2 separate regions of the Homo sapiens genome follow, and region 2 is linked to region 1. Evidence: fine-mapped expression QTL. A gene starts in region 1. The other region holds a variant in brackets. All regions are shown on one strand. Distances are between the middles of the regions.

Evidence for each region. PIP is the estimated chance that this variant, and not a neighbour inherited with it, causes the effect.
Region 2: its variant is the best candidate, but not a certain one, in a credible set for the expression of DEF8 in esophagus muscle (GTEx, PIP 0.79).

The regions. Positions count from the first base shown.
Region 1 is chr16:89,946,834-89,951,336 of GRCh38, forward strand. DEF8 (differentially expressed in FDCP 8 homolog) reads left to right here and starts at 1,922. Exons shown (of 13, transcript NM_001242818.2): 1 at 1,922-1,981; 2 at 2,584-2,680. RefSeq lists an enhancer at 932-1,271 and a silencer at 1,952-2,051.
Region 2 is chr16:90,000,736-90,004,988 of GRCh38, forward strand. DBNDD1 (dysbindin domain containing 1) reads right to left here. Exons shown (of 4, transcript NM_001042610.3): 4 at 4,136-4,253. It also overlaps the pseudogene AFG3L1P. Among named protein-coding and RNA genes, the nearest start is that of DBNDD1, 17 kb to the right of the region's middle. The variant C/T (reference allele first, on the strand shown) is at 2,064.

The sequences.
Region 1 (4,503 bases):
TGAAGGTGGGGGCCGACTTCTTCCCAGGGTCCCTCTCACTGCCAGGCTGAGGATGTACTGTGGGGCCCAGGTGGGAGCTGAGATGGGGAAGGCCTTTCCAGAAGGAGGAGCTGGGAGAGAGGCCAGGTGGACGTGGAATCTCTAGGACTGGGGACCTTGAAGCAGCAGATAGAGCGGCGGCTCAGGGCAGTCTCCCTCCAGGTCTGAGTGCATGGAGGGACACGGCGTCCGAAGCCACCCTAAGCTGGGGTGGAATCTCACTGCACCCTTTCTGAGCGATGTGGCCTTGGGGGGGCCGATGGAGTTGCCTGTCCTGTAGGTGACTGCTGGCCCCCAGGCTTCCGTAGGGTTAAATGAGATGGTGTTGGCAACACGCCCCCCAAAACCTGGCCATAAACTGGTCCCAAAACTGGCCATAAACAAAATCTCTGCAGCACTGTGACATGTTCATGACGGCCATGACGCCCACGCTGGAAGGTCGTGGGTTTACCAGAATGAGGGCAAGGAACACCTGGCCCACCCAGGGCGGAAAACTGCTTAAAGGCATTCTTAAGCCACAAACAATAGCGTGAGCGATCTGTGCCTTAAGGACATGCTCCTGCTGCAGGTAACTAGCCAGACCCATCCCTTTATCTTGGCCCATCCCTTCGTTTCCCATAAGGGATACTTTTAGTTAGTCTAATATCTACAGAAACAATGCTTATCACTGGTTTGCCGTTAATAAATACGTGGGTAAGTCTCTGTTCGAGGCTGTCAGCTCTGAAGGCTGTGAGACCCCTGATTTCCCACTCCACACCTCTCTATCTCTGTGTGTGTGTGTCTTTAGTTCCTCTAGCGCTGCCGGGTTAGGGTCTCCCCGACCGAGCTGGTCTCTGCAAGGTGGTGTGTGGCTCCCACTTGGGAGGCCTCCAGTTACTGGCACTGTCATCACCATGCCCACTGAACAAAGTGGACCAAGCCCCAGAGGCAGCCAAAACCACACCTTTCTGCAGGGAGGGTAAACTGAGCCCGCGAGCTCAGGGCAAGCGCACCAGGCGCATATGCTGGCCTTCATCTGTCCTCAGCTCCTCCCTGCGGGCACAAGCGGGGGCAGCTGAATCTTCCACGCGAGAAGCCTAAGAGTAGGGATACGGGGGCGGGGAGCAGCAGGCCTGCTCTGTGTGTAAACAACGGGAAAGCAGGAATAACGCCAGGGCCCGCGGACACCAGCTGCCTCCGAAGTCCCGCTGCCCGGCGCCTGCATGGAGCAGCCTCCTGAGCGCAGTGTGGCGCGTCCTCCTGTGTAAAGAGGGTAGAGCCGCGCCGGGTCCCTCCCTCTGCAGCCGTGAAGCCCCCGCGGGGCCCTGCAGGTGGCTGGCGGCACCTGCACACGGTGGTTCTCTGTTCCTTTTTCCTCCTCAACCACTGAGGTTAAAAAAAGTGTTAAAAGCCACCCTTTTTGTTTTTTTGAGACGGAGTCTCGCTCTGTCGCCCAGGCTGGAGTGCAGTGGTGCGATCTCGGCTCACTCCGAGCTCCGCCTCCCGGGTTCACGCCGTTCTCCCGCCTCAGCCTCCCGCGTAGCTGGGACTACAGGCGCCCGCCACCGCGCCCGGCTAATTTTTCGTATTTTTAGTGGAGACGGGGTTTCACCGTGTTAGCCAGGATGGTCTCGATCTCCTGACCTCGCGATCCGCCCGCCTCGGCCTCCCGAAGCGCTGGGATGACAGGCGTGAGCCGCCGCGCCCGCCCATTTTTTTTAAACGTGTTGGGGTTTGGGTTTCAGCCACAGGCCTTCTGCGATGAGAGGAAACCCAGGACGCGCAGCCCCAGGTCAGGCCCGCGGAACAGCCGGGCGGACTCCGGGGCTCGCAGACTCGCGACCCGCGTGCCATGAACCTCCGCGCCGGAGGCGGCAGCAGCGAGCGCGGGGCTGGATCCAGCGTAGCGGGGCGGCCGGGCGGATCCAGCGCAGCCGGGAGACAGATGCGAGGCGGCGGTCAGGTGAGCGGCGCGGGGCCGGCGGGGTCGGGGCCGGCGGGGACGGGGCCGGCGGGGACGGGGCCGGCGGGGACGGGGTCGGCGGGGTCGGGGCTGGGAGGGACGGGGCCGGCGGGGACGGGGTCGGCGGGGACGGGGCTGGGAGGGACGGGGCCGGCGGGGACGGGGCCGGCGGGGACGGGGCCGGCGGGGTCGGGGCTGGGAGGGACGGGGCCGGCGGGGACGGGGTCGGCGGGGTCGGGGCTGGGAGGGACGGGGCCGGCGGGGACGGGGCCGGCGGGGACGGGGCCGGCGAGGTCGGGGCCGGCGGGGACGGGGCTGGGAGGGCGGCCCGCCCGGCGCAGGGGCCTCGAGACCTCGGCCGCCCCACCCCGGGGACGCCGCCGCTGCTCCGGCGTCCACACCAGCTGCGTGCGGAGCACCCGGGCGGCTCAGGGGACCCGCGTGGCCGTGCCCCCGCCCTGGGCTGCTCCGAGCCTCAGTTTCCCCCTCGGTGGAACGGGTGGGTGGGAGAGACCTGCCCCCGAGGAGCCCGGGAGACCGGGCGAGCTCCCGCGGGTGTGGTGGGTGGGGAGGCACAGTGCTGGGGTGGCTTCTCCCTGCAGCAGGTGCCGAACCCACGGCCAGGCTTCCGTGGCCAGCAGCCCTAGAGGAATGGCCATCCTGTCCCTGCGAGCCCCTGGGCCCTGGCAGGCGATGCAGGTATGGGCAGACAGGACGCTGTTGACTCCGCACACCGGGGTGACTTCTCAGGTTCTCGGGGTGGCAGCTGCAGTGATGACACCGCTTCCTGGTGGTCACGCCGCGGGCAGGACGCGGGAGGCCAGGTCCGTGCATCCCGCGTGTCCTGAGCTTCGGCCCAGGGTCCCTCCGTGCCCCGGAACCCCGCCGGCTTTCTTCGGCTTCCTTTCATTGCTAAGTTGTGGGGTCCTCCCCGATGAGAGCAGTGGGCTCTAGAGGAGGGGCAGGGGGTGGCCAGACCTCTTGCTTTCACTCTTCCACTTCCTGCCCGCTCCTTTCTGAGGCCAAGTCCCACATCTGGGTGCAGAACTGGTGGGGTGAGCCTGGTGAGAGGGGCAGGCTGGCGTTCTGCTCAGAGTCGGCCACTGTGGCCGGCATCCCCAGGTCTGTGTGAGCAGAAGCTAAGGCTGCGAGGCCAGCGGCCTCCCCTCATTCATCCCCTGCCCGTGCGCCAGGCCTGGGGCTGGCACTGACTGTCAGTAAATAGGCAAATAAAAGATGCCTTTTTTCACAGCCCGGAGGAGAGCTGGTAGCCTAGAGTACAGCTGCTGGGCAGAACGGAGGTGTCCCTGCCAGCGTGCCTTCCTTGACGCTCCTCTGGCCATGTTTTAAACACCAGGAGGTTTCCAGCGGCTTCCCCAGGCGTAGCTCCTGCACCTTTTTCCTGGGCTGGTCACCATATGTGATGACAGTGCCAGTCTGTTCTGAGCAGCTCTGGGCTCCTGGCTTCACTGACATCATAAACAAGTCCTTAGCCCTTCCATCCACCCCAGAAAGTAGGTGTTCCCCCTGATTTATAGGCAAGACAATGGAGAACCAGAGTCTAAATCAGGGCTGATTTTTTTTTTTTTTTTGAGATGGAGTTTTGCTGTGTTGCCTAGGCTGGAGTGCAGTGGCACAATCTCGGCTCACTGCAACCTCCACCTCCCGTGTTCAAGTGATTCTCCTGCCTCAGCTTCCCAAGTAGCTGGATTACAGGCATGCACCACCATGCCCAGCTAATTTGTTTGTGTTTTTAGTACAGACGGGGTTTCACCATGTTGGTCAGGCTGGTTTGAACTCTTGACCTCAAATGATCCACCCGCCTCAGCCTCCCAAAGTGAGCCACCACACACCGGCCATGATTCTTAAAAATAACAGTAATAGGCCAGGCATGGTAGCTCACACCTATAATCCCAGCAATTTGGGAGGCAGAGGCAGGAGGGTTGCTTGAAGCCAGGAGTTTGAGACCAGCCTGGGCATCAGAGTGAGACTCCGTCTCTACAAAAAGTTAAAAAAAATTAGCTGAGTGTGGTGGCACACACTGGAGTTCCAGCTACTTGGGAGGCTAATATGGGAGGACCCCTTCAGCCCAGGAGTTTGAGGCTGCAGTGAGCTGTGATCGCACCACTGCACTCCAGCTCGGGTGACAGAGCAACACCCTGTCTCAAAAAAAAGTAATAATGATAAATTATAATCAATATTTATTGGGTGCTTACTATGTGCCGGCCAGTGTTCTCTGAACTTAGTATTAACTACTTTAATCTTGACAATAACCCTGTATGGTACTATTGTAATCCCCATTTGAGACATGGGAGAATGGAGGCAGAGAAACGTTTATCCACTTACCCAAGGTCACACAGCTAGGAGCTAGCAGAGTTGGGATTCAAGCTGGACGTGTCTGTCTTGTTACCATGAAACTATTGGGATCATCAGTCAGAATCTTTTCTTTTTTTTTTTTCTGAGATGGAGTCTCACTCTGTCACCCAAGCTGGAGTGCAGTGGCTCAATCTCGGCTCACCTCC
Region 2 (4,253 bases), 54 kb after region 1:
GCAAAGCAGCTGCGGAATCTCACCCAAAACAAATTAAAACGTGACAACTGTGAATGGGTGTTTTAGATGAGGGTGCTCTGAGCCCACATGCAGGGAGTAGGAGTGGGAGTGGGCAGAGGGGGTACCCTGAGTCCCTGGGCCCTCCCGCTGGAGGACAGTCGGGTCCAGGCTTAGACGGGAGAGGCCCCAGGGCTCTGGCCCCTGTGGTGCTGAGGAAGGCACGACTGTAGCTTCGAGAGGGGCTTGCGTGGGACACCTTGGAGACACCAGGCCTTCCTGGGGCCTCCGTGGAGGAGCGTTGATATGGTCATAAAGACACTCGGAGGAGCCTGGGTCCAGCACAGAAACCCTCACCGTTTGGTAGAATTCAGAAGAGGAGAACGTCAGCCAGGCATCAAGGGGAAGTCAGGGTTCTAAAGCAGCTGTTTGGATCGGTAGAAGCCGATCTGCTGTTCTGTCCTTAGAAAGGAAAAAGCCCACACCACCCACAGGTGCATGGCTGAGGGAGGAGGTGGAGCTGTGGGGCCTCACACCTGGGTTCCCCATCAGGGCACCCCCCGCCACCCCTGCCTGCGCCTTGGCTCTGTGGCAGCACTGCTGAGTGTGAGGGAATTGAGTTGCTTAGAAAACCTGGCCCCTGTCCTTGGCTGGAGGTGCTTTCACTGCGGGATGTGTCTGGATCGTCAGTTCTGTTCCTGTGACCCCTTTTTGTTGGAGTCTTGGAGCGGGAAGCTCTGCAGGGCCCCAGCCGGCTCAGGGGTGTTTGTGGAGAGACTGTGGTCCTGAAGCCCCAGCACGTGGCTGCCCCTGGCCCTGGTACCTGTTCGTGAACACTTTTCCTGGGGTTGGGTAGCTCCTAATTTTTATTAGGAAGGCCCCTTCTGGGCTCTGAGCTTCAGGCCCTTTGGCGCCTTGTACTGAGGGAGGGTTTGCTTTTTCTTGTCTGGGGTGTGTGGGACTCGATGAGGATGCCCCGTGTGCTTTCTGCAGCACACGACCTGCCTCCAGGACTCGCTGGGGTCAGCAACAGCAGGGCAGTGTCAGCCTCAACCACTGCCTTGGGGTGGGTGGATGCGTGTCTAGGTCACCTGGGATGAGACCTGGGGAAGACGCCCATTTGCATATGTCCTGGGTGAGCGGCCGGAGGAGGAGGCCCTGCTTGTGGGTCAGCTGGGATGGGACCTGGGAAGATGCCCGTTTGCAGATGTCCTGGGTGAACAGCGGGAGGAGGAGGCCCTGCTTGCTGCCCCGGGCACTGTTTGTTCTCAGCCTCTCTCTCGACCTAGGCCAGATCAGACACTGGGGCTTTGTAGTATATTTTATAAATCGCTTGTTATGTTGGCCTCGGAGCCTCAAAAATATAATTTCCAACTGGGGGTGAACACTTTCAACTTTTGCTGTTTATAAAATGCATATCATTGGACTCAAAAACTCTCCAGCACTCAACCTTCATCATGGCCTCCACCAGACCCAGAGTAGCTGAGCCCCTTGGGGTCCGGTTGGGGCCTGGTCTTAGGTCCCTCAGATGGAGGTGGGGGTGCTTCCTCAACCCCAGCAGGCCCTGTGACATGGCAGCATCGGTGGCCTCCGGGATGCAGGGTGGTCACGGGCTGTGGAAAGTCATGGCCCTCGCTCCACCGTGGTTCCCTCCAACACCCCGGGAGAGCCTGGGTGTCCCTCTTGTCACCTCCCAGACGGCTGCACGTGCCTGGGGTCCTTCATGATGATCTGGGCGTGGGATCCTTGTGCCTCCCCCACTGGGCTGTTCCCTCCAGACCTGTGTTCTCGGCGCCTGCCTTCACCCTCAACTTTTCAGGGCTGTCAGGCGCCTTTCCCGCAGCCTTCCCGCACGTATCCTTTACAAGCCGGTCCTTATGTAACTCTGGAGCCATCTCACCCCCTGAATCAGACACACTATTTTCCGTGGTCTTTTCCCAGCTGTCCTGAGCATGACCTGCAGTTTGCCTCATCAGCCTGTCGATGGTGGCTCAGCTGCACCTTTGCTGAGAAGCACCATCGGCCCAGCAGAGTGACACCTGCGGGCACTGCTGTCTGTGCTGTAG[C/T]GGTCTGTGCACCCTGCAGGGACACGAGCCTTCAGCCCCTGTATTTCTCAGCCTGCCTGCCTCCCTCCCTCTGCCAGAAGGGAAGGTGGAATGGGGTGGAATGCGTGTACCTGCCAGTAGCTGTGCACCCTTCCCAGAAGATACATCACTGACTGAGGCCGTTTCTGGGTCCATGGTCATAGGACACCTTGCTGAGAATTTTCATGTAGGGGAGGTCCAGGCTTCTCCCCTCAGAGCCCAGCACGGAAACACACAGAGACCCGTGGGCCTGGCAGAAGGCATGTCAGCCCTGGTCAGGCTCCATGGCCACCCCATTTCATGAGTAATGACAGTGGGCAGGAGTTTTGGCCTCATCTGGTACCTCCCCAGGACCAGTGCCAGTGGCCTCTGGGACAGGAGTGTGTTGAGAGCGACTCCGTTGCTGGGGAGTGAATCCCTCCCCTGGCCTGGGCCACCTTTACCACCACGTGGGGTGGGATTCTGTGACTCCCTCCCCCGGCCTGGGCTACCTTTACATGCACGTGGGGTGGGACTTCTGTGACTCCCTCCCCTGGCCCGGGCCACCTTTACGTGCACGTGGGGTGGGACTTCTATGACTCCTTCCCCCGGCCCGGGCTACCTTTACATGCACGTGCGGTGGGACTTCTGTGATTCCCTCCCCCGGCCCGGGCTACCTTTATATGCACGTGGGGTGGGACTTCTATGACTCCCTCCCCCGGCCCGGGCTACCTTTACATGCACGTGCGGTGGGACTTCTGTGATTCCCTCCCCCGGCCCGGGCTACCTTTATATGCACGTGGGGTGGGACTTCTGTGACTCCCTCCCCTGGCCCGGGCTACCTTTACGTGCACGTGGGGCGGGACTTCTATGACTCCCTCCCCCGGCCCGGGCCACCTTTACGTGCACGTGGGGCGGGACTTCTGTGACTCCCTCCCCTGGCCCGGGCCACCTTTACGTGCACGTGGGGCGGGACTTCTGTGACTCCCTCCCCTGGCCCGGGCCACCTTTACGTGCACGTGGGGCGGGACTTCTGTGACTCCCTCCCCCGGCCCGGGCCACCTTTACGTGCACGTGGGGCGGGACTTCTGTGATTCCCTCCCCCGGCCCGGGCCACCTTTACGTGCACGTGGGGCGGGACTTCTGTGACTCCCTCCCCCGGCCCGGGCCACCTTTACGTGCACGTGGGGCGGGACTTCTGTGACTCCCTCCCCTGGCCCGGGCCACCTTTACGTGCACGTGGGGCGGGACTTCTTTGACTCCCTCCCCCGGCCCGGGCCACCTTTACGTGCACGTGGGGCGGGACTTCTGTGACTCCCTCCCCTGGCCCGGGCCACCTTTACGTGCACGTGGGGCGGGACTTCTGTGACTCCCTCCCCTGGCCCGGGCCACCTTTACGTGCACGTGGGGTGGGACTTCTGTGACTCCCTCCCCTGGCCCGGGCCACCTTTACGTGCACGTGGGGTGGGACTTCTGTGACTCCCTCCCCTGGCCCGGGCCACCTTTACGTGCACGTGGGGCGGGACTTCTGTGACTCCCTCCCCTGGCCCGGGCCACCTTTACGTGCACGTGGGGCGGGACTTCTGTGACTCCCTCCCCTGGCCCGGGCCACCTTTACGTGCACGTGGGGCGGGACTTCTGTGACTCCCTCCCCTGGCCCGGGCTACCTTTACGTGCACGTGGGGTGGGACTTCTGTAACTCCCTCCCCTGGCCCAGGCCACCTTTACGTGCAACGTGGGGCGGGACTTCTGTGACTCCCTCCCCCAGCCTGGGCTACCTTTACATGCACGTGGGGTGGGACTTCTGTGACTCCCTCCCCCAGCCTGGGCTACCTTTACGTGCACGTGGGGCGGGACTTTCACTTCTTTAATGATTCCTTCTGTTGTGTGACTTTGGGACTGGAAATCCAGGTCACTCATCCCCCACATGTGACCCAAGTGAGCACAGCAGAGCCCTCAGGCTGCTGCAGCTGGAGAATGGTCCGGGCACGGAGCCCAGGGCAGCTCAGCTCACAACCCCTCAGCAGGCACCTCGTTCACTCTGCTATTGGAAAGGAAGAGACTGTGGCCAGGCCTTCGAATGCGCAGTGATGCTTTAATCCCCCTGTTTGCAAACGAGCTCTGTGGAAGCTCAGCAGGAAGGATGGAAAGATGGGGAGGAAGACCCTGGCGGGTGGAAGTGTGGCCAGGGAC